5 separate regions of the Homo sapiens genome follow, and all the other regions are linked to region 1. Evidence: fine-mapped expression QTL. A gene starts in region 1. Each other region holds a variant in brackets. All regions are shown on one strand. Distances are from middle to middle.

Region 1 (6,135 bases):
TAACTTCCAGGTATCAAATAAGCAACAACATCAGTCGCTATTCATGGATTACTTCATTTAAGCCTCATAACTGATAAGGATCATTATGCTTTCTTTACAGATGGGGAAACTGAGGCATAGACAGCTTAGTAGCTTACCCAAGGTCATAGGAAGAGAGCTGGGATTTGAAACCAAGGAGACAGATTCCAGGGCTCACATTCATAACCGTTGTGCCAAATAACCAAAGGCTTTCTAATCTTGGGCCCTGAGTTTACCACAGTCAGTAAAAATAATTGTTTGGGAGTATAGTATACTCTACCTGAAGCAGGGGCCTGAAACTGTCCATCCCCAGTGTCATTTGCCTTCAGTGGAGACTTGGCCCCGTGGTGGCCCTGTGCTCTGACTCAGATGTGCACCTGTGCCAGGCAGCTTTGCTTAGCTAGCTGAGCCCTAGGATGGGCACAGCAGGTGCAGGATCCTCCCCTAGGCACAGAGCAGAAGAAGGCTCTGTGGTAGGGGAGTGGTAGGCCCCTTCATGAGGAGGAAGGCAAGTGGAAACAAGTGTTCCTGGGAGCCAGAGGTGGCAACTCATAATCTTCCCTGAAACATTGGCCCCTCTACCCCAGCTGCCCATCCTGAAACCCCCTGGAGTTCTCACCTGCCAGCCCCTCTGCCTGCCCTACTGTTCTGGGCCCACCAGCAGGTGTCACTCAGATGCCCAGGGCAGAGCCTCCCCAGAGCCTCCTCTCCTGGAGCCCTGAGAGCGGGTGCAGTGGGGAGGGACTTGACTTTAACTGGCGACCATGGAGTGAAGAATATGCTGGAGAAAGCCACTGTCTGCATTTCTCCCTCCTCCCTGTGCTCCTCTCCTCCTCCTTTTCCTCCTCCTCTTTCTCTCTGTTCTAGAACCTGAATAGTTGGGCCTGGCTGAGGCAGAGAGATGCATCTACAATTTCCAGGCCACCCAGACTGTTTTCTCACCTCCCCTCTGTTCTAAGTGACTGCTCCCTCCTCATCTCTCCCCACCAAAACCCACTTCCCCCCACCTCTGGCTTTCTGGAGAACATGAGCAGGCCCCAGGTCAGGGCCTTCCTCAGCTCATGGATCATGTCCCCCAAAAGGGTATTGACCCAGGGTCAGCCCCAGAACCACATCCCCCAGGAAGGCCTCTTATGCAAGAGGTTTGAGTCCTTTGGACATCTTTACTTCCAGAAAGCAAACAGGAGGGGCCAGGTGCTACCGCCTTCCGGTGATCATTGTAGCTACTTATTGAGCACCTACTGTGTGCCAAGCAAGTGCAAAGTAGCTTGCTAGGTGCTTCATGCTCCTCCACTCCTGCAAGTTAATTCCTCCAACAGTATTTGGCAAGTGCCAGGCACTGCTCTAAGCACATGAGCTACCTTGGTGAACAAGGTTTCTCCATGAGTACATGCTGCTTATTGTTTGTACCTGACAGGTGGGGGAAACTGAGGCTTAAAATTTGCCCCAAGTGGTGAAGCAGAGATTCTGTTTCAAGGTATCTGACTCCAAAGCCACACTATCTGCCCTCCATCTCCTTTCCTCTCCACTGGAGTAGAGGGTGCATGGGTCTGACTCAGGGTGGGAATCCCTGCCCTCAAATGCTTACACAGTTGCTTTGAGAGGGGAGGGATGACGTCTGCACACCTGAGACGTCTCAAGAGGTTTCATCCTCAGTATGTGAGTGACCCTGTGGCCCAGGCTGAGTACCTAGGGCCCACGGGACACAGAAGACAATGATTTGAGCTGTGTGTCTCATGGGTGAGAGGATGCCTGAAAGTGGGGAGCGTGAGGCCAGGCTTTTCAGGAGTGGGGGGATCATGAACTTGGGGAGATAAAGGAAGAGTGAAATCTGGATGGGGAATGGGCTGTTCAGAGGCTTGGAGGTGGGAAGGATCCCAAGACAACTGAAGATGACAGGCATGATTGAAGGCTGGGAGGGAGTGCCAGGCGCAGGGATGTGCGTGCAGGAGAAGGGTGGGGAGGCCGTGCTGCTTTTGATGGCTGAGGAGGTGAGACTGGAGCTAATGGGCCATCAGGAATCTCCCAGCAGAGTAATGACAAGATGCAAATGGCGTTGGGAGATGATCCTGACGGCATGGTGTATGGGACCTGGGAGCTATCACAGGAGCCCCCAGAGGGCCTGGCTTAGGGGGGAAGCTACGTTCAACCAGACTAGCCTTCACTGCCACTTATCCCCAAGTCTTCAAGAGAAAGTCACACTGAGTCCTTCCCTCCTTCACGCCCCTGCCCAGACTCTCCAGCTCTACCTACACCTCATCAATGCCACAACTTTGTAATACAGGACTGGGGGGCAACAAGGTTACCTCTCATGGAGGGTCTGACCAAGGAGCAACCTGGAAGAGGATGAGATGGGTGATTTCGAACAAGGGCACAGCCAGGGCTCCAGAAATGCTGTCGGTGATCTGGGGCAGGGGGCATGGCCTCTGTGGGGGAACCTCAAAGTGGGTGATGCTTGCGTGGCAGCACATGATCCTAGGCCAGCCACAGAGAGACTGAACTAGGGAAAAATCCCCCTTTGCCACCCATACCCTCTTACTGCCAGGGGCAGCCTTCCCCTAGCTAGGAGAACCTGGGGTCGACCCAGCTCTTAGACAGAGAAGTTACCCCCAAACCCTGTGTGACATGAGTGAAGATTTGGGCGTGGTAGCCCACAAAAATATTCCCCCTCCTCCTCTGTTGGACTCTACAGTTTCACAATCAGTGTTCTATTCCTTTGGCTTAAGATTTTTGACCCAAGTTATTTTTTTAATGGTGCCACTTTAAGTTGTTATCATGTATCCACACCTTAGTATGAATGAGTCAATCTGATCCTTTTCCAGGAGTCGATTTCGTTGTTGATAGAGATGAAGGAAGGCTTTAAAATCCTAGAGTCTAGGACAGTGGGGTGGGGGAGACTGGTGAGGGGAGGATCAGGATGCTGGGGCAAAGAAGGGGCAAAGAGAGAAGAGAGGAGGGCACAGAAGGGAGAGGGTGGACGAGCCTGGGAGGGATGGGGGCAAATCACTCACTTCGTGATTTGGGGATGGGGTGATCAGAGATAGCCTGAGCAGAGACCGTAGTACAGCCTTTTACCAACTCCCTCTCCCCACTTGGGTGCCTGGACCCCCTGTTCCTGTGTCTTCATATCTCCTCGATGCAACAGCCTGGAGCGCAAACTTTCTGGGATATGACCCCAGCCTGGCTTCCTATTCTGCCGTCGCCACCCGCAGCTGGACAGGACAGGGGCTCTTGGCAGATCGGCAGGGGCGCAGTCCTGGAGACCAGGACACTCTGGGAAGGGGGCGCGCGGAGGTTTAGGATCGAAGCGGCAGGGGCCGCGGGGCTCTGCGTCCAGGGCCGGGGCAAGGGGACCCGGCCAGCGGGAGGCTCACCTGCAGGACACGGTGATCTCCACCTTGGTGGCCGGGATGCTGCCCGCCAAGGAGTCGAACTCGCTCAGCGACGCCATGTCCTCAGGCTGCTCCATCGCCCACCGCACCCCCCACCCCAAATTAGTCAATCCCTGCGCGATTCACGCCTCCTCCGGAGCGACTGGAGCCCTGGGCTCTCCCCCAACTCCAGAGCCTGGGCTGGGCGGCAAGGGGAGGAGAGAGGAGCGCGAAGAGGGGGCGTGGGAAGTGAGAGAGGGAAGAGGGCGGAGGGAGCGGGGGCCGCGGATCGAGGAGGGGGCTCGGGTGACGCCGCGAGGAGGCTAGGGGCCCAGTGGGGAAGGGCAAGGAGCCCAGGGAGCGGGGGCACAGCGGGGAAGGCAGAGAGGGGCGCGGGGAGAGGGGCTCGGGGAGAGGGCACCGGGAGGGAAACGCGGAGTCGTGGAGAGGGGCACCAGGAGAGGGACGCGCGTCTGTGGGCAGAGGTAGAGGGGATGCAGAAGACAGGGAGAGGGGCGTGAGGAGCGGGAGGCGCCGGATGGGGCGCTGGCGGCGGGGGTGGCGGGGCGCCGGCAGCGCGGAGCCCGAGCGCCCGGGCTGCGCCGCCTCTCCCTGGGTCTTGGCGCCGGCGGCGACGGGGCTGAGACGCGGCTGCGAGCGCCACCTCCTCGGCTCGGGCTTCGGCTCCGGGGCGCCCGGGCTGCGGGAAAATCAAATCTGCCCGAAGCCGCAGCCTCCCGCCGCCCGGGAACGCCAGAGGGGGCGCCCGCAGGGGCCGGGGCGGGGCCGCGGGCGGGGTCTGCGCGCAGGGTGAGTGTGAGCGTGTGTGTGTGCGCGTGTGTGTGTGTGTGCGCGCGTGGCGGGCCGGGGGACGCGGTCCAGATGCTGGGGACGTGGCGGGTGACAGCAAGAGGTGGTCCTGGTCGCGCGCATCTTCATTTGCGCCCGCCCCCTCTCACCACCCCTATCTCCCATCAGGGGTCTCCATCCTGGGGGAGGGGGAGGGTTATGGGAACCAACGGGCGCCTTTTTGAGAAAGGTCTATGCAGGGTTGAGAGGGGGCATAAGTGGGAGGGAGGTGTGCAAAAAAGATCCCCTCCCAGGGGCTTGGGTGTGGAGGGTCTCTGCTGAGTGTGCGCCCTACTCGGGGGCGGGTCTCAGTTCAGAAACAGACCCTACATCTCCTTCTGGGGAGGTGTGTGGGGGCGACCCCAGTGCCAGGAGGGACTACCTCGGTTTCCCAGTGGCCCAGGTGGGGTCGGTGCATGGGCGCCTCCCCCATCCGTGGTTCCCGCCAGCCGCGGCCTCGCCAAGTCGGCTGCCGAAACCACGCGCCAGCGCCCTTCCACTCCCCCGCCCGTCGTGACCACACGACTGAGCCAGCCTCCAGGTCTAGAAGCTCCTGCCACCCAGTCTGGTGGCAACCAGACTGGGAGATCGGCCCGAGCTCCCTGGGCTTCTATGCAGCCAGCACCGAGTAGGCGCGTGCTGTGTGCCTGGCGAGCGAGGGGAGAGTTGGGACACCTCTCCTGCAGTCCTCTTCCCAGCCAAGCCCCTCGCGATCCCCCGCCCTAGCCCAGCCTTGCCCTCCCGGGCATGAGGTTGCAGCGCAGAGGCGTCTCCCTGAGTAAGGCTGCACACGTAGACTTGACTCTAGCCCATCCTCAGCCTCAGCCTAAGCTTTGCCGAGCTGGAACCTCCACTTCCTCGCCCACCGCCTGGCACATCGAAGCCGATGTGCCTCGGGCCGGCGGGGAGGCCAAAAACCTGGTGCTGGGCTGGGCAGAGTTGCGCTCTCTGGGCCTTGTTTGTGGCAGCGGGACCATAAGGGGCTCCTCCGGATTCTGTTTGAAGTCAATTCCTGGAACATCAGATACTGTCAGTCAAAGATAAATACAAGAACACATTCCTCTGCCTGTTACAATTTCCCCATGGCTCAGAATCAGCTGGACTGGGTTCTGCCTCCTGGAACAGGCAGCAAGGGACAGAGGCTGTTAATTCCCCTGACAGCCAGGCACAGCTGGGTCAGGAGGCCCCACTCCAAGGAGAATAATTCTGTCTTCCCTTCCTGAGGATGCAAAACTGAACTCGGAATCTCTATGTTCCCCATCCCCCACATACCTGGCATAAACAATGCTCAAAGCATGCTTGTGGAATATGTTCTCCATTCATTCCAGGAGTGTTTACTGAGCATCTGCTGTGTGCCTGGCCCAGTGACAGGGCCTTGGGAAACCTTGTTCATAACAATAATTAGCATCGTTTTATTTTCAAAGATCTGGGCCAGACACCATGCTTACTTTTTTTTTTTGAAATATTAGTCACATACCATAAAATTACCATTTTAAGTTGTATAAATCAGCGGTTTGTAGCATATTCACAGGGACCGTGCATGATTTTAAATTCTCAAAATAATTTTATAAGTGAGATATTATTACTTTTAATGGGAAAAGCTGCAGTTACTTTGCACCAACCTAATATTATCTACATTTAATAAGTAAGGAAGCCAGTGCCCAGAGAGGCTAAGTAACTTACTCATCATCACCCAGCTGGGGACTGGCATAGTGAGAATGTGAAACAAGGCAGTTGAGACCAAAGCCTGACTCTGAGCAAGAGGCTCCACTCTCTTTTAGGATAGGGCCAGACGATGGAAAATCATCCATGAAATGAGGCCTTGTTGGGAAAGGCAACAATAGGGAGCCATTGCAGGTTGTTGAGCAGGTGAGTAGTAAGATTGAAGTTCTACCCA
Region 2 (6,135 bases), 83 kb before region 1:
GAGCCGGTCCTGTCGGTGTGTGGGGCCCTTTCCCTCTCCCCAAGGCCCATGAAATTGGCTGTATCTCTTCTCACCCTCCTTTGATGTAGTCAAGGAAGGTGCACTCTGACTCCACAGCAAAGGAAAGCAGGGTGACCTTCAAAACAAAAGGGAGCTTGGTCAGTGGGGAGCCTGGGGTCAGGGGAGATGGGTTATGATTCGAGAGCTGACATTGACAGAACACTCGGCATGTGCCAGTTTTGCATGCATGACTGCATGCACTGCCCACACCACCCCATGAAGTACTATTATTATCCCCACTTTATAGCCAAGGAAACTGAAACCCAAAGAGGTGGTGCAATGTGCCCAAGGACACTGCCAGGGCAGAGAAGGGATCTGAAACCAGGGTGTGTCTGACTTCAGAGCCTGCACTCTTGACCTTGACGGAAGGGTCCCATCTGTGTCAGTGGAACCGGGGTCCAAGCCAAGGGTGTTAGTTTCCTCTAAGTGGGCACTGGCTCTTCAGCCCCAGGGACCTAGGGTGGGGTGTGGAGGACAAGGGGGCCCTCCTGGCACAGGCCTAACAACCTGCCAATGCCGACCAGCTTCAGGCTTCCATGTGCCTAGAGCTATTAGTCCTGAAATGTGCCTCTTTGGACTGTGCTTATCTTAAATCTTACTGGTCCCATCTCATCCCTCTCAGACCCAAGATCCTGCCTCATAAGTAGCCCATCCTTTTCCCCAGAGGTAACTGACTACCCCAGGCCCCCTCCCCCAAGCAGAGGCCTTTTAACCTATGCCCTGGCAAAGTTAGCTTTGGCTTTGCCAAGACAGGCAGCTACCTGGCAGCTCATTATCATAACAATTTAGAATCAAGGAGACAAATGAAAGCCTGGCATCCTAGGCCAATTATATGAGACAAGATTAGGGCAGAGGACCTTTCACCTGTGTAAGAGAACGAACTCCTCTCTGGTAGTTTGGGAGCCCCCTATTCATGAAGATTCAGCTGTTTTTACAGGCTCATTGGGAGGGCCAGGTGAGAGCACCACCCTTACTTGGCAGTAAGACCCCCAGCTATTGTGGTTAAGGTATTAGGCACCTGGATGAACCACAGGCCTCCTTCCAAGTGTGGCAGCTCAGACTTACTAGGAACCACGGCAGTGGCTTCAACCCTGACTGATGACCATGAGATGCCCTGGGGGCTCTTAGATCATCCTGCAGCCCAGACCCATTATAGCCGAGTTTCCGGGGCTACATGAATGTTTCAGAGATCTTCTTTTTTTTTTTTTTTTTTAGCTCTTCACGTAAGTCTAATCTGCAGACACAGTTGACCACTCCCCATTCCAACCCCCAGGATGAAGCAATGCCCTAACTGCCCTGACCATATGGGTTCACCCAGGGGCTCGCAGGGTGAAAGCAGACTTTCCCCTATTCAAAGGGTAGTGTCCCTAGACCAGAGCGTCAGCATCACCTCGATGCCAGGTAGAAATGCAGAAATGCAGATTCTTGGCATTTTCACAAGATCCCCAGGGGATTCTGCACACCATAAGTAAGGGATGAAAAGCACTAAACACAGATTCCTGGGCCTCCTAAAGTGGAATCCCAGGGAACTGGCCTGGGCGTCTGTATTTCAGCAAGCTTTCTGCATCCCGGGTGATTTTTCGCGATGAAGATGGGGAAATGCTGGAGTAAAAGGAAAGTCAAGAGACCTGGGCCTAGGCCCGCTCTGTCTCCAGCTCACTGTGTGACCTGGGACAAATCGCATGCCCTCTCTAGGCCACAGTTTCTTCGTCTCTAAAGTAAGAAGGCTGGATGAGATCAGTGGTTTTTGAACCTTTTTATTCCCAGCTGGGGAAGGTGCTGTCTTCCCTAGGGGAATTTAGGAAGGCGTGGGAGAATTTTGGGGGTTCTCATAATGACTGGGGCTCTACTGGTAGCTATGGGCAGCAGCCAGGGGTGCTAAACATCCTGTGAGATGAAGAATTTTCCTGCCCAAATGCTGACAGCCTCTCCACTAAGAAACACCGCAGCCTTGGACAAAGGAAATATGACTCCAAGCCCCAGTCTGTGAAGCAGTTACAATCAAAGAAGTGGTGTTCAGTCCCCTTTGAATGAGCAGAGTAATTTTACAGTTCACAAGCCTGCATCTCCCATGTGTCTGTCACAGCTGCCCTGTGCAGTGGCAAGGTGGGGATGATTTATTAGTCCTACTTTACAGACGGAGAAAATGAGGCTTCTCAGAGGAACCCCAGAGCTCCTGAAAACCTCTTCTAGGTCTGGAGATACAGTCTGCCTGACTCAAATGACCAGGCTTGGCTGCACTAGCCATGGGCCTCTAGAGTGAGGAAGGAACACAGAGAGGATGAATCTGGGTGTGTTTGCACTGCAGAGAAAGTGGCTTGTTCTAGAAATGCACTGTGAGCTCCACCTCAGGGCCTTTGCATGTGCTGTTCTCTACAGCAGGAATGCTGGAATTCCCTTTCCCCAGTATCCTCAATACTTCCTCCATTGCCTGTCCCTTTACCCTTTATACTTTTTCCATAGCTCTCATAATCAACTGACACACACAGGCATGTGTGTGTGTGTGTGTGTGTTTTTTTTTTTTCTCTGTCTCCTCCCACTAGAATATAAGCACCAGGGATTTGGGTCTGTCTTGTTTCCAGCTGTATCTGATGTGCCTAGAATAGTGCCTGGCACACAGTAGCACTCAGTAAGTATTTGCTGAA[G/T]AAGCGTATGAATGTCCTCAAGACCAGCCCCGAGAAGCCACTAGGCCGGCGTGTCATCCCAGGAAGGTCACGGTTAAGCAGGGGCAGCGCCCGTAGCAGCTGCCAGCTCTGGAGTGAGATGTCATGTTGAGTCCCATCTCTACCACTTTCTAGCTGTGTGACCTTGGCTGAGTCACTTTCCTGCTTGCAGCCTTGGTTTCCTCTTTCATGACTAGGGGATGATAATATCTGCCTCTCAGGGCAACAACCTGTGAAAAGCACCAACGTGGGGAATTTCCCAGGGTAGGGGCCCAATAAATACGACTTCTCTTCCTCTTCCTTCCTGCAGGAAGTCCCGTGGATGTCTCTGCGATTCCTCATGCTAGATACAGCCAGCGCCTGTTGTGTGGTCTGCAAGTCAACTCTCTCCCCTGGCTGTTGCTCCATCTGCCCCACCCCTCCCCACCCCATCTCTCTTGGATGTCTGATTCCCACGCTCAGCCCCTGCACACACACAGACGCACGGGCCTCCCTGATACCAGACCTAGCTTGGGGCTCAGAATGTCTACACCCGGCTGCAGAGACCGGGGTGGCTACTCACTGTGCCAGAATTCACGTATTTCTTTTTCTTCATTTTCTTTTTCGGGTTTACCACCTGCAGGAAAAACCAGTTACCAGGTAAGGCATGCTTCCAGGCAGTCAGGGTGAGTCTTGAGGGCTTCCAACCACCCATGGGTGTGGTCCAAGCCCAGCCCCATTAGAGTGTGGGGTGTGAAGACCACGGGGCCAGGGGAGAAGGGTTTAAGGAGGATTTGTGGGAGACTGGTATTGAGTCTGGGTTACACAACTGGGTTCTCCCATCAGACCCAGGGTCCCACGATCAACCGGGAATATTTATTTAACCTTCTCTCCCACTGTTCCCCGGAACACACGCACCCTCCACCCAGTATAGCCAAAGAAGTCTTGATGTTGCAAAGCGGCCCTATCTGTACCTGTCCCTTGTGTTGGTTGAGGCTGCTCCCCTCACCAAAAATGCACCCCCTTCCTCTCTCAGCCAATTCCAATCTCCCCTGTTCCTCCTTTGGGACCCAGCCCAAGGGCTGCCCAGGGCCTCTGAGGCTCCCCTCTCCATCACCATCCCTCTTACTTGGCAGCAAGAACCTCTTTAGCTATTCTTTGAGTGTAAGCTTTAACTTCCAAACCAGACCTGTGTCAGATAAATCATGGGGCTAGGCTCAGAGTAGGTGCTCAGAGAAGGCTTGTTGGTGGCTAACTCAGCGGTCTCAACCAGGGGCGATTTTACCCCCAGGAACGTTTGGTAACATCTGGAGACGGTTTTGGTTTCCACAACTGAGGGGGTGAGTAGAGGCCAGGCATGCTGCTAAACATCCTACAGTACACAAGACAGCCTCCCACGGCAGGGAGTGATGCAGTCCCAAATCCCAGTAGTGCCAAGGCCAAGACTGGGCAAAGTGACGAGAGCCACCCAGCCCTGAGGCCCCCCACGAGACTTCCGCACTTACTGTATTTGTATTCTCATTTGACCCTCGCCAGTTTTTCTTTGTTTTGTTTTTAATAAGGGAAGTCTAGGCACAACTTTTCCCTAATGTCCCATCAAACAAAGCCAGGCAATTTTCATACCTCCTGTGCTGCCTGTTGGTTTCTGGTGAACTCATTTCCCCTTTCCCTGTCTTTGTTCCCACAGAGGCCGTCAGCTGATCTTTACCGTGGTCTCTTCTGTCTGGGTGAGTATTGCTATCTACTTCCAGCAAGAAGGAAACTAAAGCACAGCGACACCAGGTGATTTGCCTAAAGTCACACAGCCATCTGGGTAGTGACAGGATTAGAAACCAGGTTTCCTGCCCCCGGGCCAGTGGTGCATACATTGGTGCCACCTTGATAACAGATACAAACAGATCTCTTTGACATACATTTATGGGGTGGGTGGAGACATATATTGCTTCTCCCCTGGAATCATCTATCACCTATGTTGGAGAGAGAAGATATGTCCTCAGGGCAAAAAGTGACAAGGGCCATGGAACAAGGGGGATCACAGAAGTGTCAGGGGAGTTAGAGGAAGGAAAGACCACTCTAGGTGAGAGTGTCAGCAAAGCCTCTCTGGAGCAGGAAGTCTTGAAGGCAGACTTAGAGGCACAGGAAGGCTCTGGGCACGGAGAGATGGATGTCAGAGGAGGTTCTGTGGGAGAAATGAATAGAACCCAGGCCCAGTTTGATGGCAGAACCACAGGGTGGAAGAGTAAGCTGGGCTGGTTGGAGGAGAGCCTAGAATGCCCAGTGAAAAATGTCTGAATGTCACCCAGCGGCCTGCAGGGAACTCTGATGACCCCCAAGCTGGTAGGAGACAAAATCAGAGCAGGCTCTAGGACACTGGGGCCTGGTGGAGGTGAGTGTGAGGGGAGGAGGAGGCTCATCCAGGAAATATTTGCCTAGTTCTGCCACCTAATAATAGCTGTGTGACCTTAGGCAGGTTACTTAACCTCAATGTGCCTCAGTCTCCTCATCTCTAAAATGGGAATAAGAAGTACCTGCCTCCCGGAAAGGTATGAGGATTAAATGGGCCAATGCAAGCAAAGTGCCTAGAACAGTTTGGAATGTAGTAAGTATTATCTATACGTGTCTGTTGCTTTTTTCTAAGACGGGGTCTTGCTCTATGGCCCAGGCTGGAGTGCAGTGGTGGGGTCATAGCTCACTGTGGCCTCAACCTCCCGGGCTCAAGCAATCCTTCCAGGTAGCTGCCACCATGTCTGGCTATTTTTTTTTTTTTGGTAGAGATAGGATCTCGCTATGTTACTCTGGCTGGTCTCAAACTCTTGGGCTCAAGCAATCCTCCTGCCTCAGTCTCCCAGAGTGTTGGGATTACAGGCGTGAGCCACTGCACCCAGCCTTAGTTGCTATTTTTCAAAATTACTACTACTATTATTACTGCCACCATAAGTCCATGCGAGAGGTCATGAGGACTTGGGGGTATTGGGACAGGTGCTGAGCTATGGTGAGAACAGCGCTGTCAAGAAGTGACCACGCCTCTTGGGCCCTGGGCGTGGCTATAGAGGTTCGAGAGAGGGAGGGGTTGGGGTGACCAGGTAGACACAGAAGGAAGGCGCTGGATTTGGGGCACAGGTGGGAAGTTCACGTGGGAGGTCTGGCAAGCTGTGCAGGTAGAAACTGAGGGCCTGGGCGAGATGGTGAGAGAGCCCGGGAGAGAAGACCAGAGCACCCTCTTTAGCACTGGAGGACGCCCCCTCCACGGGGTTACCCAGATGGTGAGGTGCTCACGGACACATTCATGGGAAAACAGCTTAAGTAGGCAAGCTGTTAAGATGAGGGCAAAATGGCAGCCCCAGTGCTGCACTGTGCCTCAGTTTCCCAATCTCTCCCTTGAGGGTGTTGAACTATCGGAATGGACAGCATCTCAAACTTTTGCTCCAACATA
Region 3 (6,135 bases), 91 kb before region 1:
GGGGTCTGGAGGGAGTAGACCAGAGCGTGACTAAGAGGTGGGAACAGAGCTCACCAGCCAGATCTCTCATGATCTGGGCACCCCTTCCACCCGCTAGAATCCACTATCCAGCACCGGACTCTGCAGCCAGAGGCCAGAAGGTGGATGAGGGCAGTGGGGCCCAGTGAGGCAGGGAAATGAGAAGCCACGCCCAAGTCATCTCCAAGCATTTCCCTAAGGTCAAGGAGGTAGGCACATCCCCAGGGTTCCCCTAACGGGGAGGAAGACACTCCTCAAACCGCCTCCCCCACCGCACACTCCTTGCTTACGTTGACAATGGCCTCCTTGGTCTGCGCCATGTCCGAGATGACCCCATCAGTAATGATGAGCAGCACCGAGTACTGGGAGCCATCCTGCACGGCCGCTGCATTCCTGGGTGGGGCAGGTGTGGGCTCAGGTCTGTCTGCGGGACCTCTGGGCATGTTCCCCCCTAAACAAGGACCCTGAACACTTTGGAGGGTGACAGCTCTTGGGGGAATCTCTTCAGGGTCAGGGCTCCCTGAAAGGCAAGTGCGTGGGAAGAGAAACCCCCTCCCACCACCCAGAGGCAGAGCTGGTGTGGAAACAGAGGCCTTGTGAGTGCCTGGAGGCGGTGGCAGCGGCACTCACCTGGCCACGTGGGTGACCACGGGGGCAAAGTTGGTGGGGCCGTACAGCTGCACAGTGCGCAGGCTGCGGTGGTAGGCCTCCAGGATGCCGTCGATGCCACAGCATGAGGGGTTCTCCTGGTTGCCATTCTGGGGGACAGAGGGCAGGGAGGCTGAGCCCAGGAAGGAAGGACAGGGGTGCACGATGTGTGGGAACTGAGTCCAGGTGGGGAGGCCAGCAGGCCTGGGCTCCCCCAGGTCTTCTCTGGTGTGGGGTGGCGGGGCAGGGGAGGGAGCTCCCAGGGCCCATCCTGAAGCAGTGCATGCTTCAGGTGAGCTGGGTCCAAACCTGCTCCTTACCCGGCTCCCTGTACCTGTTCAGAGATGCCCCAAGATCCCTGGCTGCTTCCCTCAGGGAACCTTGGGTAAATCCACTCTGCCCTAAAATGACTGCTGGGTCTCAGCAACTCAGGAAGGACCTGTGGCTGATCTGTCCACGTGCACACTGGGCCCAGCACAGCACCTTGCACCCTCAGGCATGGGAGGGACGTCTGCTGTGCCTGAGTGTCCCCAGCTCGTGGGAGCCAGGGAAAGGGGTGGCCTGTGCAATCATCTCCACAGGGCCCGGGATGCCCAGATGACGCCATGCTCCACATCACCCTGGAGATCCACGTCATCCCATCTCAGCACTGACTCAGGGATACCCAACCCACACCACCTTGTTCACTTTTCTGGGGCCCTGAGGGATGGGTCAGCCACAGCTCGCCTCCACCTGCACCTGCGTCTTGTCAGGAACAAGGAAGCCAGGGCCAGCTGTGGGCAGGCAGCTTCAGACATGGAGGGGCAGCATCTGTGATCAGGGAAGGGAGTGGATTTCTGGAGCCCCCCTACACACAGCAGGCAGTCTACCTCCACTGAGGCTGAGCCTTAAGTCCCCGGGCTCAGAGGAAGGGAAACGTCCCCCCACCCCCAGCTTGTCACCTCACCCCCAGCCTGATCAGTCCTCTCTCCCACCAGCGGGACCACCTACCAGTGGGAACTCGTGGGACACTCTGCCATCCGGGGGCAGCTTGGCCCCGAAGCCCAGGGCAGGGAACATCTTGTCACTGTCGTAGTGCTGGATGATCTCTCCGACGGCAGTCAGCGCCAGCGCGTAGGCGTTCAGCTGGTAGGGGCTCATGTAGTGCAGGGATGTGGACTGTGAGGGGTTCCCTGTAACACAGGACATGGGAGCCTTTGACCATCTGGACCCTCCAAGTCACCCCGGGTTCAGAATGAAGAAGGGGGTGTCCAAGGGCACCCCTAACTTTTATTAATTCTTGACTCCTCTCTTTCTCTCATACCCCATGTTAAATCCTTCAGCAAAACAGATCTAGAATCCCTCCTCCGCCTCTCCTCCTCCCCATACCACCACCCTCTTGCTTATAGGATGCAGCAGTCTCCTAACTGATCTCCCACTTCCTTCTGCCCCTGTGCCTCCAGCCCATATCCAGCACAGCAGTGACTGAGCCTATC[C/T]GCCTCAGAGAGATCATGCCTCTCCTCTGCCCAAAACGCTCAATGCCTCCACCTCCCCCAAAATGAAACCCAAAGTCCTCACAAGAGCCCGCAAGCACTCATGATCTGGCCTCCAGGTCATCTCCTACCCTCCTCCCTGTCACTCGCCAGTCCCAGCCTCACCAGCCCCTCGCCATTCCCACCTCAGGACCTTGGTGATGGCTGTTCCCTCTACCTGGGACACTCTTCCCCAGATGTCCACTCCCTGGCCCGCTCCCTGGCCTCTTCAGGTCTCTGCTCAAGTGTCACCTCCTCAGTGTGATCTTTTCCAAGCAGCCTATTAAAAATTACAGCCTCCCCCAATCCTTCCTATCCTTCTTCCTGGCTTGATTTCCCCCCCCAGAGCCCTCTTCGCTGCCAATATAGTCTGTATTTAACTTATTTGTTCATTGATGGGAGGTAGTACAGCACAGATTGCCAAGGTACCAATCCTGTCTACCTCCTGCTAGTTATGTGATCTTGGGTAAGTTCCTTAACCTTAGCCTTAGTCTCTTCACCTGTAAAATCAGAGCAATAATAGTTCCTACTTCATAGGATTGATGTGAATATTACACAGATGCTATCGATATTATGATAACTATCCTCAGTGTTATTATTACTAAGGCCCCTTCCAGCTCTGATAGCCCAGTGCTCTATGATGCTAGGACTTACAGCTATAAGAGGAGCTCCTGACACCTGTAGAGGGCAAGACCTGGGCATTTTTGATTGGTGCAAAAATTAGCACTGAGCACCCCTAATAGAGCCCAGAGCCCAAGGGAGGTTGTGATGTTTCTAATCATGTAAAGTTGGGCACTGTTATTGCTCCTAGTGACTCAGCCACAGGCTGACACTGGAGAAATTGGGAGGAGGTAAGGAAGCCAGGGCAGCCCCAGCCAGGTAAGGACTGGGGTCCCTGGGCTGGATCCTGCCTCCCTGAACACCACAGAGCTCAGCCTTGGCTCTGATTCTCCACTCCAGCCTGTGGGTTGGACTGCACAGAGGAGCTGGGATTTGATCCCGGGGGGAAACATCTCCAGGGCCCTCCATAGGCCCAGAGTACACACAATCCCATTCCCCCAGGGAGACTGGGTGTTCCTCAAGGACAAGGCTGTGGCTCAGAGCCCAGATTTATGTCAATGGTCCAACCTGGGGATACTACTGCCATCTTGGTTGTATCTTTGGTCCTCCAGACCTAGGTACATCCTCTTTGGTGAGGAAGAGGCCAGAGAGTATGAGGGTCATGGTCCCAGCCAGGGCCAGATGCCACAGCCCTTAAAAGCTCTCTCCTCCCACCCTGCTCCTCTACCCATCCCCCAACTCACCATTGGAGGCAGTGAAATCAATGGCCACAGTGAAGTTGATCTGGGTCCTAGAAGAGGGAGAACAGCAGGGGAGTCACCTGGAGGGAGGCAGGGCTGTGGGAGGGGGGACAGTGCTAGACATTGGCTACCACCCTGGCTCTGCTGCTTGCCAGGTGTGTGGCCTTGGTGAAGTCATTCATCTCTTTCTAGTTCTGGAGAGCTGAGATAGTAATGCCAGCTATGCCCCCCTTACAGGATTAATGAGCATCAGAAGAGTTATGCAGTAGGAAAGCTCTTTGAAGATGATTGTGTTCTGTGTGGGCATGTGGCTATGGTCACTTATTTCCTCCACAAACCCTACCCCCTGGGCCCACCTGTGTAGGCTGGGTGAGGTTGGGTCTCATTGGATTGCTGACTCAAATTTGGAGTGAGATTCAGGACGAAAACTCATTTGACAAAAAAGAGAGTCAAATAGACATTATGCATCTCCTAAAGAAAGAATAGAATACCACCCATGAAGTTGTCTTACCAAAAAATTGAACCTGATTCTGATTGAGGCTCCAGAGCTGTCTAGTTAGTTACAGGAAATACAAGGGACAGAGGAACACATTAAATGACACCACAGGAGATGCAGCCAGCAAAATCCAGTCTTTGGGAAACTCTGTAGAAGCACTACCAGAGACAGCAGCAGCACCATCTCCTGGGAATATGCTGGGCCTCTCAGACTCTATCTAGCTCTCCTGAATCTTTTTTTGGAAAAGAGGTCTCGCTCTGTCACCCAGGCTGAAATGCAGTGGCGTGATCACAGCTCACTTCAGCCTCAACCTCCTGGGCTCAAGCAGTTTTCCCACCTCAGCCTCCTAAATAGCTGGGACCACAGGCACGCACCACCACACCTGGCTTTTTTTTTTCTTTTTGCAGAGATGGGGTCTCATTATATTGGCCAACCTGGTCTTGAACTCCTGGGCAAAAGTAATCCTCCTGCCTCAGCCTCCCAAAGTGCTGGGATTACAGGTGTGAGCCACCACATCTGGCTGAATATTAGATTCTCTTGGTGGGGTACAGGAATCTGTGTTAGCAAGCCATTCAGGTGCTTGGGGGGAATGAATAGATGAAAAGAGAATTAAGAGACCAACCCACCAATCACAGCCTATGGCTCTTGCCTGGATTTCTGACTCAAACAAACCAATTTTAAAACTATAAGATAATTGGGGAGATGTAAACATTTACTAGATATTTAGTATTAAGGAATTGTTAATTTTTTAGGTGTGGTTATGGTATTGTGGTTATGTTTGATAAAGAGAGAGTCCTTATGTTTTAGAAAGACATCCTAAAGCATTTGGGGATAAAATATGATGGCTGGGATTTGCTTCAAATTGGATATTGGGAGCCTGAGGTGGGAGGATTGATTGACACTAGGAGTTCAAGGCCAGCCTGAGCAACATAGTGAGACCTCAAAAATAAAAAAAAAAAACCCACTAAAATAAAAAATAATAATAAATGACTGAATGAAGGGTGGAGTGCATGAAACAAGACTGGCTATGATGTGGTAATGGCTGAAGCTGGGTGAAGGGTACTTGCATGTTGATTATACCTTTTCTCCACATTTGCATGTGTTTGACGTTTTCTATAATAAAAAGTTAGGTTTTGAGGATTCAGATTCAGGCTTGAGACTTTCTGAGGGCTTGGCCATTCTAGGTTCTCTGCCGGGTCCAGACAGAACAAAGCTGACAAACACAAGTCCCTGATAAAGTCTAGTCTTATGGTTCTCACACGGCAGTGAGCATAGAATCACTACGGGTGCTTGCTTAAGAAGATTCCAGGGCTCCACCCCAGAAATGCCAATTGAGTTTGTCTGGAGTGGCTCCCAGAATCTACCTCTTGAAAAAATGTCCACTGCCTTCATCCAGGGATTATGAGGACACGAGGCTGGGATAACGCTGGGGAAAACTCTGTTCTAGTAATTCTTAGTTGGGGCTATGGATGATGTAAGATCAGGTAGGCCTCACCTCACTTGCATTTAGCAGAAGGTGCCTATCAGAAACCACAGCTCTATCAGCCCAAGATCCCTGTCACAGACACAGCAGAAGGTCCCTATCAGAAACCACCTGATCACAGCTGAGCTGCTGCTCATGGAACCCTCACTCACCCCCAGGGAAATGTCAAGGACATGGTTAGCAGGAGACCCCAGCCAGGGTCTGCTGGCCACAGACAGTCATCCCCACCTCTTTCTCCTCTTCTGCTGGCTGGGGGCAGAGCATCCAGAGGATTCCAGGCAGTAGGATAGAAGGAGCCGCAAAGCTAGCAAGAACCTGGGTCCCTGAATGACTGCGTGGATCATCTCCCCACCCAACCCTGCCATCCCACAGATGAAAAACAGACCTTTATTGGTATGAAGGCTTGAGGTTAGGGAATTATGTGTTACAGCAGTTGACCTACCATACTCATCTGCTGTTTGTTGTCACCCCCGCTTCAGTGTGGAATGTAGAACGCATGTCTTTGTTAGAGGTAGGGAGACATTTGGAGGGTGAAAGTCCCGCTCCCAGGGCCACTCTTGGGAAGATGATTCTGGCCTGTGGGACTATACTGGAGGGACACTGTTGGACTGGCTCTTCCAAATACAGGGTGAGGGGAAAGGCAGGCCTTGCTCTAACTAGTCCTCCCCTGCCCTGGGT
Region 4 (6,135 bases), 98 kb before region 1:
CATCCCCTCTATTTTACCAGTGGAGAGACTGAGACCCAGAGGGCAGATGGCCCAAACAAGGTCACAAAGCAACTAAATGGCTCAGCTAGAGCTCACATCTCTAGGTAACCAGATGGATCCTCCCACTCCACTTTCAGGCTCAGATCTCTGTAGGCTCCACTGCTCTCTAATTGTGTGATCTTGAGCCTCTGTGTCTCAGTGTTCTCATCTGGAAAATGGGATGATGACAGTACATACCTTCTTCACAGGGTTGTTATGAAGATGAATTTGCTAAACACATGTAAAGTGCTTAGAAGGATGCTTAGTAAGTGCATATGCGTGCTGGTCATTGCTACTATTATTATTTTATTTGTATTAATTCAGGGGTATTTGAGGTGAGTGGACAAGAGGAGGACAGAGGGGCTTCCAAAGGCAGAGAAGTGGGTGGAGAATGATCTGGGGGGTAACAGCCTAGGGTCCTTAATCCTGAAGGCCAGGAGATTGAGTAGGGGGAGCAGAGGGCCAGCCACAGCCTGGGGGGTGAGCTCAGAGGCAGGACAGCCTTTCCCCTCTCTGCCCACCCCTCCAGCTCTGTTCCACACACCCCTCAGTCCAATAGGGGGACAAAAATCCAGTCAACCATGCAGCCATGACTCCGGGACTGTGAATGTCTGAAGCCCTCCTTTCTTCCCTGTGGCTTCTCTTCCTGAAGCACCTGGGGCAGGGATCCCTTTCAGAGCCCTTTTCTTCTCTCCAGAGCCCAATTTGAGGTTTCCATTTTTCCCACCCTCAGTGCCCTCCCTCTGGCCTGCTCAGGGCAGGCTTCAGGCTTCCATGTTGGCCTGGAAACCCGGGAGATTGTCTCTACTGAAATTCCCAAGACAGCACGTTCTGCTTGGTGACGGTGTTACCAGCAAAACACACATACACACACTGACTCTGTGATACAAAGCTTGAGAAACGTTGGGTTGAACCAAATCATACTGGTCCCTTTGCTGTAGGACTTACCAGAGCCTTGAATACCCAAAAGGCCACTGAGACTCTCGAGAGGGACGCACAGCAGGCAGGTTCCCAAACTCCATGCCAGAGAGCCAGTATTCTGTGGAACACACCTTGGGAAAGAATCCACAAGATGCTACGGTGTTGGGCACAGCAAAGATGCTCTTGGTGTCCCGTCCCGCCCCCGGCAGTGGCTCTGTGCCTCAGTCCCCCTGCCAGGCAAGCACCCTCTCCTGACACTTTCCCACGGCCCCTGTGGTGAGGTGACATGAGCTGCTGGTTATGGGAACTTCCCTCCTTCCAAGCTGTGACCCCACCCTGTTCCCACTCAAAGCATATCAGAATGTAAGTCACAGGGGCATGTAATTATAGGGACAGCCGTGAATCAGCACCCATTTACTATAAAATCATAAGAAGTAAACAAGTCCCAAACTTTGGTATAATTAGTTCCAAATTTCTTGTGATGTTCAGGGTGGGAATGGCTGCCTGGAGGGCTAATCTGGGAACAAACTTGCCCAGAGAAGGGAGAAATCCCCTTTTGCTATGATCCTGGTCCCTGATGGCCACAGGGATTTATATGTGAAGAGGAACAAGAGGAAAACAGTGTTTCTTGGGCACCTAAAATGCCATGGGTCCTGGGCGCATGTCACATATGTCACATGCAACCTTATGTACTCGTCACTCTGGCCACACGATGACCCTGCAAGGATGGGGGTGGTGGTGACGACCCCATTGCACAGGGGATGCCAGACTCCTCCTCATGGCACAGTGACTCTGGTGCCCACAGATTACCCAGCCCCTCCTGATGGCTTGGCATCAGTACCCCATGGTTGTAGTATTTCCTCGCTCACTGCCCCAGAGCAGGGGCACCCCTGAGGGTGCAATTCTGTGTGTGCATCTCCAGCATGGTCTCCAATACGTGAGTGGGGCCTGGCACTCATGTTTGGTAAATACTTGTTGAGAGATGAGTGAATGAGTGATCAAATGCAATAAAGCAATCCGTTTATTTTAGAGGAAATTCTGATGATGTTACTCACTTCTCTCACCTCCTCAATGGCTTCCCGTTTCACTCAGTAAATGCCAAAGGCCTCATCATGGCCTATGCGGCCTGTGCATTCTGGCCTCTTCACCTCTCCGACCCCATCTCTAGCACTTTCCCTTCCTGCACTCAGCTCCAGCCACACTGGCCTCGCTCTCCTGCAAATGCACCAAGGAAGCTCCTACCACAGGGCCTTTGCGCCTGCTGGTCCCTCTACTTAGAGCTCCCTTCCCCAGATATCAGCGTGGCTCCCTGTCTTACTTCCTGGGGGCTCACCTCAACCATGACCTCCTCTGAGAGGCCCTCTCTGACCACCTCATCGAAAACATCACCCTCCTTCTCCCTCATGTGTCTTTAGAACTCTTGCTACCACCTGAAATGATGTTACTAGCCTATTTGTTGATGTGTTTGCTGGGTCTCTCCCATATTATCTGTGTGTGTGTTGTAAGCCCTGTGCAGGGACAGGGTCTGTGCTTTGTTCATGGCTGCATCCTCAATGCCTAGCACAGAGCGTGGCACGTGGCCTTTGATTGTAAATCTCACTGAAGCAAACAATTGAAGGAAGCCACAGAGGAGAACTGGACCCTGTCAAGCAGCAACGTCAGTGCTATTTTTCAGAGAAGAAAGAAAAACTTCGTGCTTTACTAAAAGAACCAAATTTACTTCAGTTTAAGGCAAATTCCACACAGAGACTGTCTCAGAGACGGGCACAGAACCAGACACCGTAGAAACACCACCACCATGCATGACGGGGAAGCAGAGGCAGGCGGAAGACGGGGGCCTGGCCTGCACCAGGCACGGAGAGGTCAGTGGGCTGAGGAGCTCCATGCGGCAACAGGGATTGGCATGCATGATCTGCTCCCCGAGTGGGCAAAGGCTGGGCAGCTGGGTGGGCCCGGGAGGGAGATCCCCTTCTTCCCCACCTTTCCCACAGCAGGGGCAGGAGCTCGGGCTCAGATGCCAGAGCCCCAGGCTGAAGGACTAGGGTATGTTTGGGGTGATGGGATGAGACAGGGTGACCCAAAAGCCAAGGCGGCCTCAAGTAGGGTCACATCTGTTAGGAGTAGGATGGGGGGAACTGGGCATGGGATGAATGACCCTCAGGATGTCAGACCTAAAGGAAAACCTGGGGCCATCTGGTCAACCCTCTTGTGGTACAGACATGGAAACTGAGGCCCAAAAGGTAGAAGGGCCTTGCTTGGGTTCCCACATTAGGCAGTGGGGGGAGGCAGGGCTCAAACCCAGGACTCCTGTCTCCTAGCCTCATGGGATACAGGGCAAAGAGCAGGAGCAGTGTGGGAACGTGGGGCTGAGCCACTCCTTACTCAGGCCTCCAGATGGGCAGAGGCGTGGGCACCGAGGGCCCTGGGAAGCCTCTGGAGGGAGGAAGGGATTCCTGAAGCCAGGAGTCAACCATGGAAGTACCTGTGGGCCCACACCAGGGAGAGGCCTCCACAGGCCATCTGTGTGTCTAGAACTTGCATCGTACTGAGTTCGAGAGGCACCAGAAAGGGCTCTGTGCTGAGCAGCCTCCACTTCAGGCCCATCACATGGCCTACGGTCCATGATTACAGCACCCCATGGGGTCCCCGGGGCTCCCAGC[G/T]CATCCAGTGTCCCTGGGAGGGTGCACATGTTCAGGCCTTCCTGCAAACCCATCAGCTTCATGGGGTTCACTGGAAATCGGGCACAGGATAGACCACAGGGCGGGGCTCAGGGACAGGAGTAGACACCATGGGAGGATGGGACGGAGATGGGGGGCTGGAGGAGGCCAAGCCCAGGCTTCAGGGTGACAGGTAAGCAAATAGGATTGCCGGGGGTGGGCGACAGGGACCCCAATCACCCTTATTGTTTACACCTTCCTGGCTGGGTTAGAGCCAGGTATTGGGGAAGAAGAGAAGGGCTGGGTCCCTGTGTACCCCTCTTTCACCCGTACCCCCCTAACTCCCTGGGTTTGGGCAATAAGTGAGGCCAAGAAATTGAGGAGGGGTCTTCAGAAGCCCCACCCCCTGGCAGCCTCCCAGGCACACAGATGTCCCAAAGGCCGGGCAGGCCAACTTCGGGGAGTCTGGGGCCCTGGCCTCCCATTCACCTGGCCTCTCCCAGGCCCCAGCCACCTGCCTGCTGAGACCAGGTTCAGATGTGCGTGTGCAGGGGGGACGCAGGGGGCGTGCGGGCTGGGGACTGCGAGGGCGAGTGGGTTGGTGCTGCGGGTGGGGGACGCGGGCGAATGCCCTGTGCCTTCATGTAGGACACCAGTTGGTCAGGGATCTCTGCCAGCACGTCTCGGGCCAGGCGGGCCATGCTCAGCACGTGGTTGCCTGTGCGGTCCACGTAGTCCCGGAAGGGTACAAACTGGCAAGTGGGAGGGCAGGGTCAGGCAGTGCCTCCTGTGGGACCCTGGCCCCCAAAATCTCCAGGCCTGGGGTTGCATCCCCACCCCCCTCCCAGCCTCTGCTCACTTGACTCAATCCCCCCACCTTTCTGAATTACCTGAGGGACTGTATCCCTCAACTCCCTGGGTTTGGGCAGTCAGTAACTATAGTCATAGTCACTATTCTTTCATTCACTCGACAAAAACTGAGCCCTATTCCACACCAGGACACACCACTGAACACGATTTCTCCACCTCGGCACTAAGCACAGGCTCTGAGTAGGTGCTTCCGAAATGCCAACTGAATCCCTGACTTCTGGGGCACGTGCCCTCCTGGGTTTCCCCCGACCTGTCCAGCAGAGCCCTCTCTCTCTGGCCTCTCTTCGTTCCTTTTCTCTCTGGGGCTAATCTGGCCAATGCCTAATGCCAGGCCCATCTGGCTTCTTCCCGGGGGTGCCCTCCATCCTGAGCGCCTCTTCTGGCTCACTCCTGCCTCCAGGCCTTAGCATGGGCCGGTCCCACCTCCCAGGTTGTCTTGCTCTGGTTTCCAGCCCCCTATGTTTGGTCTCCACACCTGGGATACTGGGCCCCAATTTTTAAACCAAGGGGGTATGCAGGATGTCAGCTTTGTCTTCTGCATCTCCTAAGCACTAGGGCCTCCTCTGCAGGGGATGAGTGGGGGAAGTGCTTGCGGAGGGTGCATTCTTCCACGTGAGACTGCATGGGAATTCCCTGAGGACAAAGGTCTTTCTGCTCATTATATTTGCACCGTTCATGGAGATGCTTACATTGATTCAGTTAACCGAGCAATGCCTATTCTTGGAGAAGGCTGCAGCAACACTAAAGACACTGCCTCAGCCTTCAAGGGGCAGAAAAAAACCAGAACGAGGCTGACCACAGAGGCCTGGAGGCTGAGGAAGGGCTGGCAGAGGGTTCTGGCCTCTGGCTGGGCACCCGCAATGTTAGGAGTGTGTCCCAGATGTGACAGAGGGGGGCCCAGCCCAGACCACAGCATGGCCGAGGACTGACTCCTACTCCCTTCGGTGGTGGCTGGGCCACTTTGGGGCTCCCAGTGCCTCCCTTCTGGGCCCTTCACCAGGGAAGCCCCCAAAGGGGGTGTGAGGTCCGCCTGGCTAGAGGGGCTCTTGAATTTCCCATGGGGCAGGCAAGGCCTGGGCTTCACCTGGACGATGTCGCGTTCAGCCAGCTTCCCCCGGGAGGAGATCCGCACGTCGTCGCCATCCAGCTCCACCATGGCTGTGAGGGGAGGAGTGTCATGGGGCGGGGTGAGATTAACGGTGGACCCCTGGCCCTAGCAGGAGAGTGGACTTGTCCTTTCATCCCAGGCCAATCCAGGGCCGAGACCACTGGCCCATGCCCCGTGTTAGAGATGAGGAAACTGAGGCCAGGGGCCAGGAGGAGCCCGATCAGGTGAGCCTCTGACTTTGAGCCCAGTGCTTTGGTTCACCACCCTCCCCAGACTCCCAGGGCTGGAGGAGAAAGAAGTGACTTGGGGCCTCCTCCCCACAGCCTTGGGATGTGGGTGTGGGTGCACACCCAGACCTGACACACCCTTCCCTGAGCAAACAAATGCGTCCCACACCCTGCACACTCACCCAGACACACACGCCCAGGCGGGAGCTCTCACTCTTTTGGGAGGGGTCATTCCCAGGGGACCACAGCCTCTGGGGAAACATCTGGGGTGGGGGCAGGGTTGCGTGGCTAGGGAAGGAAAGGAGGGGAAGGC
Region 5 (6,135 bases), 23 kb before region 1:
AAACTCTTGGCATTGAACGAACTGGATCCCCTGTGTTCATGCCCACCACAGTCTTATTCCAAAACCTCCACAAGACTGCAAATTATCTTCCTGCTTCTGCCCTTTCCCCTGCAGTCCACTCTGCACACAGTGGCCAGGGCTGTCTTTCTGAAACATAAACCAGGTTGCATCACTCCCCTGCTTAAAACCCTTAAATAGGCCAGGTGTGGTGGCCCACGCCTGTAATCCCAGCATTTTGGGAGGTTTAGGAGGGAGGATCACCTGAGGTCAGGAGTTCAAGACCAGCCTGCTCAACATGGTGAAACTCTGCCTCTACTAAAAATACAAAAATTAGCCAGGCATGGTGGCGCATGCCTGTAGTCCCAGCTACTTGGGAGGGTGAGGCAGGAGAATCACTTGAACCCGGGAGGCAGAGGTTTCAGTGAGCTGAGATCGAGCCATTGCACTCCAGCCTGGGCAATGGAGCAAGACTCCATCTCAAACAAAACAAAATAAAACCCTCAAGTAGCTTAGCATCACACTTAGATCAGTATCAGAACTCTTTATATGGCCTCTGAAGCCCTACAGGATCTGAACCTGATGACCTCTGTGACCGTATTGTCCACTTTCTTAATTGTTCACACCACTCAAACTACACCAGCCTTCTTTTTGTCCTTGAAATACAGTAAGCTTGTTCCCACCTCAGGGCCTTTGCACTTGCTGTTCCCTCCACCTGCAACACCCTGCCCCCCAGAATGATGCATGGCACCACTCAAGACTCAGCTCCAGTGCCACCAAGTTTGGCTTGGTTCACAGGATCTCCAAGGGCGGCCTCTCCCACTGTGATGGAGTGCCCAGGTCAATGGTAGATTGCGGTTAATATTTCCAGGCATTTTCATAAGCATTACCTTAGTTAGTCTACCCACAAAGGTCTCTTAGCCCCTTTTTATCGATTAGTAAGCTGAGACTTGAGAAGATAAATAACTCACCTAGGTCATACAGTTAGTAAATATCAGAGCTGGTATGAAAACCCAGAGTTTTGGACATCAAGTTCAGGCCTCATCTGACAAATGCATTTGACTGTTATTCATGATGTCTTTAGGGACCAGATGGGAAAATATAGCACATAGGTGGCTGAACGGCCTACCCCAAAGGTCAATTAAAAAACTGAAGTCAATCTGGGAAAAGATCTCTAGTGGAGGAACGCAGTACTCCATCCCATTCAATTCCTTGTCACCTGTGTCGGTGAGGACTACAGCTGACCCAGGACCAAGAGGCATAACCAAGATGCTGAATGCAAGATCGTAATTCAACATGGTCTCCATAAACTGTAACAACGGACTGAATCCAACAAACGACACATGATGGCAATAAATGTGAAATCACAGATTTAGGTTCAAAAACTCATTGCCAACTCTGAGGTAGGGAAATTGGCAAAGCTATTTGGACAGCAACTCATGGAGAAAGACACAGAAGTCCCCAAACTCAGTACGAATTAAGTCAAAAACACCTGCCAAAAGATCAGTGGCATATTAGATAGTGTCGCTAGATGTGTAATCCTCAGAAGCAGACACAGAATGCAGAGGCCAGCAGGGAGGAGCGTGATGATCTAAGGCAAGCCCCTGTGTGGAGGAAGCCAGCCCATGATGCTCTGGGCTGCAGAAGGGGATGGCGGGGACACATGCTGTCCAGGAGGGTGCTCAGGTTGGTAAAGGGACAGAAAACAGTGATATGAAAAGCTTCAGTTTCCTCCTCTGTCAAATGGGGCCAATAATAATAATAATACCTCCTTCATAGGATTGTTGTGAGGATTCATTGAGTTAATGCAGGTAAAGTACTTAGAACAGTGTCTATGGCCAGGTGCGGTGGCTCACGCCTGTATTCCCAGCACTTTGGGAGGCCAAGGCAGGTGGATCACTGGAGGTCAGGAGTTCAAGACCAGCCTGAAACCAACCCCATCTCTACTAAAAATAGAAAATTAGTCGGGCGTGGTGGTGCACGCCTGTAATCCCAGCTACTCAGGAGGCTGAGGCAGGAGAATCACTTGAACCCGGGAGGTGGAGTTTGCAGTGAGCAGTGATCGTGCCATTGTACTCCAGCCTGGGCGACATAGCAAGACTCTGTCTCAAAAAAAAAAAAAAGAACAAAAAAAAAGAACAGAACAGTGTCTGCACATTGCTGTCATGTGTTTGCCATTATCATTACTGTGATTGGTGTCATCTCCCTGGGTTGAAAGTGAGCTCCTCTGGTTGTAGGCAGTGTCTGGTCCCCCTTTGCACCCCCAGCATTCATCCCCCAGCACATAGTAGGTGCCTGCTGTAGTCTGAATGTTTGTGTCCCTCTGAAATTCACGTTGAAATTCTTATTTCATTGTGATGCTATTCAGAGGTGAGGCTTTGGGGAGGTGATTAGGTCAGGAGGGCAGAGCCCTCATGAATGGGCTTAGAGTGTGTTCATCCCTCCCACCATGTGAGGACACAGCAAGATGGAACTGGCCCTCACCAGACATTGAATTTGCTGGTGCCTTGATATTGGACTTCCTGGCCTCCAGAACTGTGTAAATAAATTTCTGTTGGTTATAAGCTACCCAGTTTATGGTATTTTTGTTATAGCAACCTGAACAGACTAAGACAGTGCCCAACACATGCTCACAGAGGTTATGTGAAGACACATGTCAAGTTGCCCCGAGGAAGATCATTCAGAATATTTAGAGATGAACCATCAATTTCAGCTGCTGGTGAAAAGTTTAACAGGCTAATTCTCCTCAAAAAAGAGACTGAGTGCTTTGGCAGGGACATGTGGGTGTGGTGGCTGGGGCCAATGACTGCAGTGGTATGGGGCGATCTGCTGGACACCCTAAGATTCTGTGATTCCCATTTCTTTTCCAAGAGGCCCTCAGCCAAGACAGCTGCCTGGTGAGGGAGGGGCAGGGATCTCCATACCCACTTTTCAAATGGGAAACCTAGAGGGGTTCCCTATCATGTCCCTCTTCCCAGTGGAAGCATTTCTGGGACTCTTCCCACCTGGCCATCCTGCCTTAGTTAGTCTACCCACGAAGGTCTCTTAGCCCCATTTTATAGATTAGTAAGCTGAGACTTGAGAAGATAAATAACTCACCTAGGTCACACAGTCAGTAAATATCAGAGCTGGTCTGAAAACCCAGGGTTTTGGACATCAAGTTCAGGCCTCATCTGACAAATGCATTTGACTGGACATGCAGAAGGCCCTGGCAGGACTTGATGCAAACAGTGCTTGATTTTCTGGGCTAAAATTACATCTTGAGTCAATTTTCATGAAATGTGGTGACAGATTTAGGTGCTGGGAAGATGGAGCTTTCTCAGAAGGCATAAAAATGACCCAAATGGTTAAAACCAGCTGAAAGCCGGCAGCCAGGGGCCACGAGAGCAGATTTCATCCCTCCCAGGATTGGCTCATCTGCAGCCTCATGCAAACCCCACGTACAGAGAAAGTGCTGTGCCTGCACTTGACTTCCCCTGACCACAGGATTATTATTTCTCGG[A/C]CAAGATTCTGGTAACAGAGAGGTGATTTGTTCCTGAAGGGCAATGAACTAGATGGAGGAGTGGTGGGAACTGGTTCCTGTTTACTTGCAAGGGCAGTCTTCTATCCCAGAGGCGGTTCCATAGAGACAATCTGGATTTTTCTTTAATTCTCCATTCCTGATACTTTCCTCTGTGGGTCGCACAGAGAATCGAGCAAGGAATTACAGCCCCTCTCCCGTCCCCAGTATGTTTGTTTGTTTGCTTTCGAGACAGGGTCTCATTCTGTTGCCCAGGCTGGAGAGCAGTGGCACAATCTAGGATCACTGCAACCTCTGTCTCCTGGGTTCAAGCGATTCTCCTGCCTCAGCCTCCCAAGTATCTGGGACCACAGGTGTGGGTCACCATGCCTGTCTAATTTTTAGATTTTCAGTAGGGACGGGTCTTGCCAAGTCGGCTAAGCTATCCCCAGTATGTTTAGATGCATCTTCCTTTCTCCAGAAAAAGCTGTGTGAAGGCCGGGTGCAGTGGCTCACGCCTATAATCCCAGCACTTTGGGAGGCTGAGGCGGATGGATCATCTGAAGTCAGGAGTTCAAGACCAGCCTGGCCAACATGGTGAAACCCTGTCTCTACTAAAAATACAAAATTAGCTGGGCGTGGTGGTGCATGCCTGTAATCCCAGCTACTCGGGAGGCTGAGACAGGAATATCATTTGAACCTGGGAGGCAGAGGTTGTAGTGAGCTGAGATCATGCCATTGCACTCCAGCCCGGGCAAAAAGGGTGAAACTCTACGCAAAAATAAATGAATAAATAAAGCTCTGTGAAACAGCATGTGCCCTAGGGGTGGCCCACGTGGCTGAGCTCTGCCATCTTCACTCCTGGAGTCTGGGCACGGGTCCTGCTCACCTCTCATAAATGAGGTCAGCCTCCTTGATCTCTACGGACCCTTCTGCTCTGACATTCTCACTCTACAACTCCAGCTGTCCTCAGCCTGACATCCATGAACTCCCTGTATTGACTCTTCCTGTATCTTGCCAGCCTCACATCCTGAACACCAGCCATGCTCCTCTGTCTGTGCTGGACAGCCCCCGTTGGCCCCTCTGCTTCTACACCCAGCCTTTCCCCACACTGCTCTGTGCCCAGGAAGAAAGACTGACCCAAGTTGACTGCCCCAATGGTCTGTTGGCCCTAGGTCTCCTACTGAGGTTCCACCAATGGGAGGCACCAGCAGGAGATAGGAGGACGGGAAGAGACTGAGGTTGCCTGAGTTGACTCTGTCCCTCCAGTGGGGCTCCTGGTCCTGTTTGGAAGTCCCTTGGGGTTCTAGAAACCAGGACTCCCCTTCCTCCCAAGGCCTGGAGTAGTAATGGCTCCCTCCTATTGCTACCCTTGAGACTCACCATCTTTCATTGATTTCCTTGAACCCCATCCACCCCTTTATTACATCCCTCAACAGTGCAGGATGCTACTGGGCCCCTGGGTTATGTCTTCGCACGTCACTGAAACCTGAAACCCAGCTCAACTCAGCTCCTCCACAGACTGAGGCCAGTCCTGCCCCCGTCTGTAGGATGAGGAGGTTGAGCCAGATGATCCTGAAAGTTCCTTCCAACCCATATCTCCTCTGTTCCACATCATGCACCCCAGGCAAATGGCTTGTGCTTGGGCTCAAATTCCATTTAAAAAAATCCAAATGACCTGTCAAAATGCCTTAGTTGAATGTGGCCTTCTGGCTGCGACTTTCCCTCCCCTGAACTCCCATTTTCTTCCATCCATACTTCCCTTCTCGTCGTTTCCCGTTAGGATTGTTCATCCACATGCATCTCCCCTCCCAGGCTGCAACTCTAGTTCCAATTCACACATTTGGTGATGCTCTGTTCTTTTGACCCATCTCCCTATTTTCCCCAGCGCCTGGCACTTCATAAATGCTTCCTGTTGCAAATATTAACTGAGATGGGAAGAGTGACCAGGAAGGCCCCAAACACTTTGGATGATGCTGTATAATGAATATTTACTAAGCACTGACCATGCACCAAGGCACTTTACTTCCGTCATCTCGTTTCACCCTCACCGCAGGCCTATAAGGTAGGATTTACCCTCAGACGCCAGATGTGGAAACTGAGGTGCAGAGAGGTTAAGTAACTTGCTCTAGGCCCCACCTCCAGAAAGGGCTGGAGCCAGGAGCAAGCACAGGTGTATTCCACACCAAGGCCACCTGTCTTCCCTCTACTCCACCCTGCGGCGGGTGTAGTAACAAGATGTGACTTGGACAATCAGAAACCCTCAACCAAATGAAGACAACTCTCAATTACAGAATGTAATTAATGGCTCACCAAAGAGTGCCCTTCTGAAGAGCCCTTCCACACTTTCCTTCATGAATCACGAGGACATGAACACATTCCTGGTTTTTATGAAGCACAGCCAAAAGGCCTCAAAAGTCATTAGTTCACTTAAGCAGGCTAAATGTTTCCCTAGCAATCTGGTTTATGCTTTAATTGGCATAGACTCTTGGACAGGGTGGAATAGTAAACTTTAGCCCAGCCCCTGTGGAAATATTTCTCACATTTTTTTTGTTTTTGTTTTTGTTTTTTCTGAGACAGGGTCTCGCTCTGTCAACCAGGCTGGAGTGCAGTGGCACGATCTCAGCTCACTGCAACCT

Evidence for each region. PIP is the estimated chance that this variant, and not a neighbour inherited with it, causes the effect.
Region 2: its variant is fine-mapped to the expression of CPNE5 in whole blood (TOPMed, PIP above 0.99).
Region 3: its variant is fine-mapped to the expression of CPNE5 in whole blood (TOPMed, PIP above 0.99). The same link has a PIP of 0.9 or more in blood mononuclear cells.
Region 4: its variant is fine-mapped to the expression of CPNE5 in whole blood (TOPMed, PIP above 0.99).
Region 5: its variant is fine-mapped to the expression of CPNE5 in tibial nerve (GTEx, PIP above 0.99). The same link has a PIP of 0.9 or more in nasal epithelium, skin and sun-exposed skin.

What each region holds. Positions count from the first base shown.
Region 1 is chr6:36,835,891-36,842,025 of GRCh38, forward strand. It overlaps CPNE5 (copine 5), which reads right to left and starts at 3,554. Exons shown (of 21, transcript NM_020939.2): 1 at 3,393-3,554. The coding sequence starts at 3,487. RefSeq lists a silencer at 4,018-4,227 and an enhancer at 4,912-5,462.
Region 2 is chr6:36,752,960-36,759,094 of GRCh38, forward strand. CPNE5 (copine 5) reads right to left here. Exons shown (of 21, transcript NM_020939.2): 13 at 3,286-3,339; 14 at 75-136. Among named protein-coding and RNA genes, the nearest start is that of RAB44, 58 kb to the left of the region's middle. RefSeq lists an enhancer at 2,403-3,602. The variant G/T (reference allele first, on the strand shown) is at 2,706.
Region 3 is chr6:36,744,740-36,750,874 of GRCh38, forward strand. It overlaps CPNE5 (copine 5), which reads right to left. Exons shown (of 21, transcript NM_020939.2): 15 at 3,482-3,528; 16 at 1,657-1,838; 17 at 649-776; 18 at 309-411. Among named protein-coding and RNA genes, the nearest start is that of RAB44, 50 kb to the left of the region's middle. RefSeq lists a silencer at 194-394. The variant C/T (reference allele first, on the strand shown) is at 2,142.
Region 4 is chr6:36,738,118-36,744,252 of GRCh38, forward strand. CPNE5 (copine 5) reads right to left here. Exons shown (of 21, transcript NM_020939.2): 20 at 5,572-5,645; 21 at 2,658-4,369. The coding sequence ends at 4,151. Among named protein-coding and RNA genes, the nearest start is that of RAB44, 43 kb to the left of the region's middle. The variant G/T (reference allele first, on the strand shown) is at 3,621.
Region 5 is chr6:36,813,052-36,819,186 of GRCh38, forward strand. The region is part of intron 3 of CPNE5 (copine 5); the gene reads right to left. Among named protein-coding and RNA genes, the nearest start is that of CPNE5, 23 kb to the right of the region's middle. The variant A/C (reference allele first, on the strand shown) is at 3,500.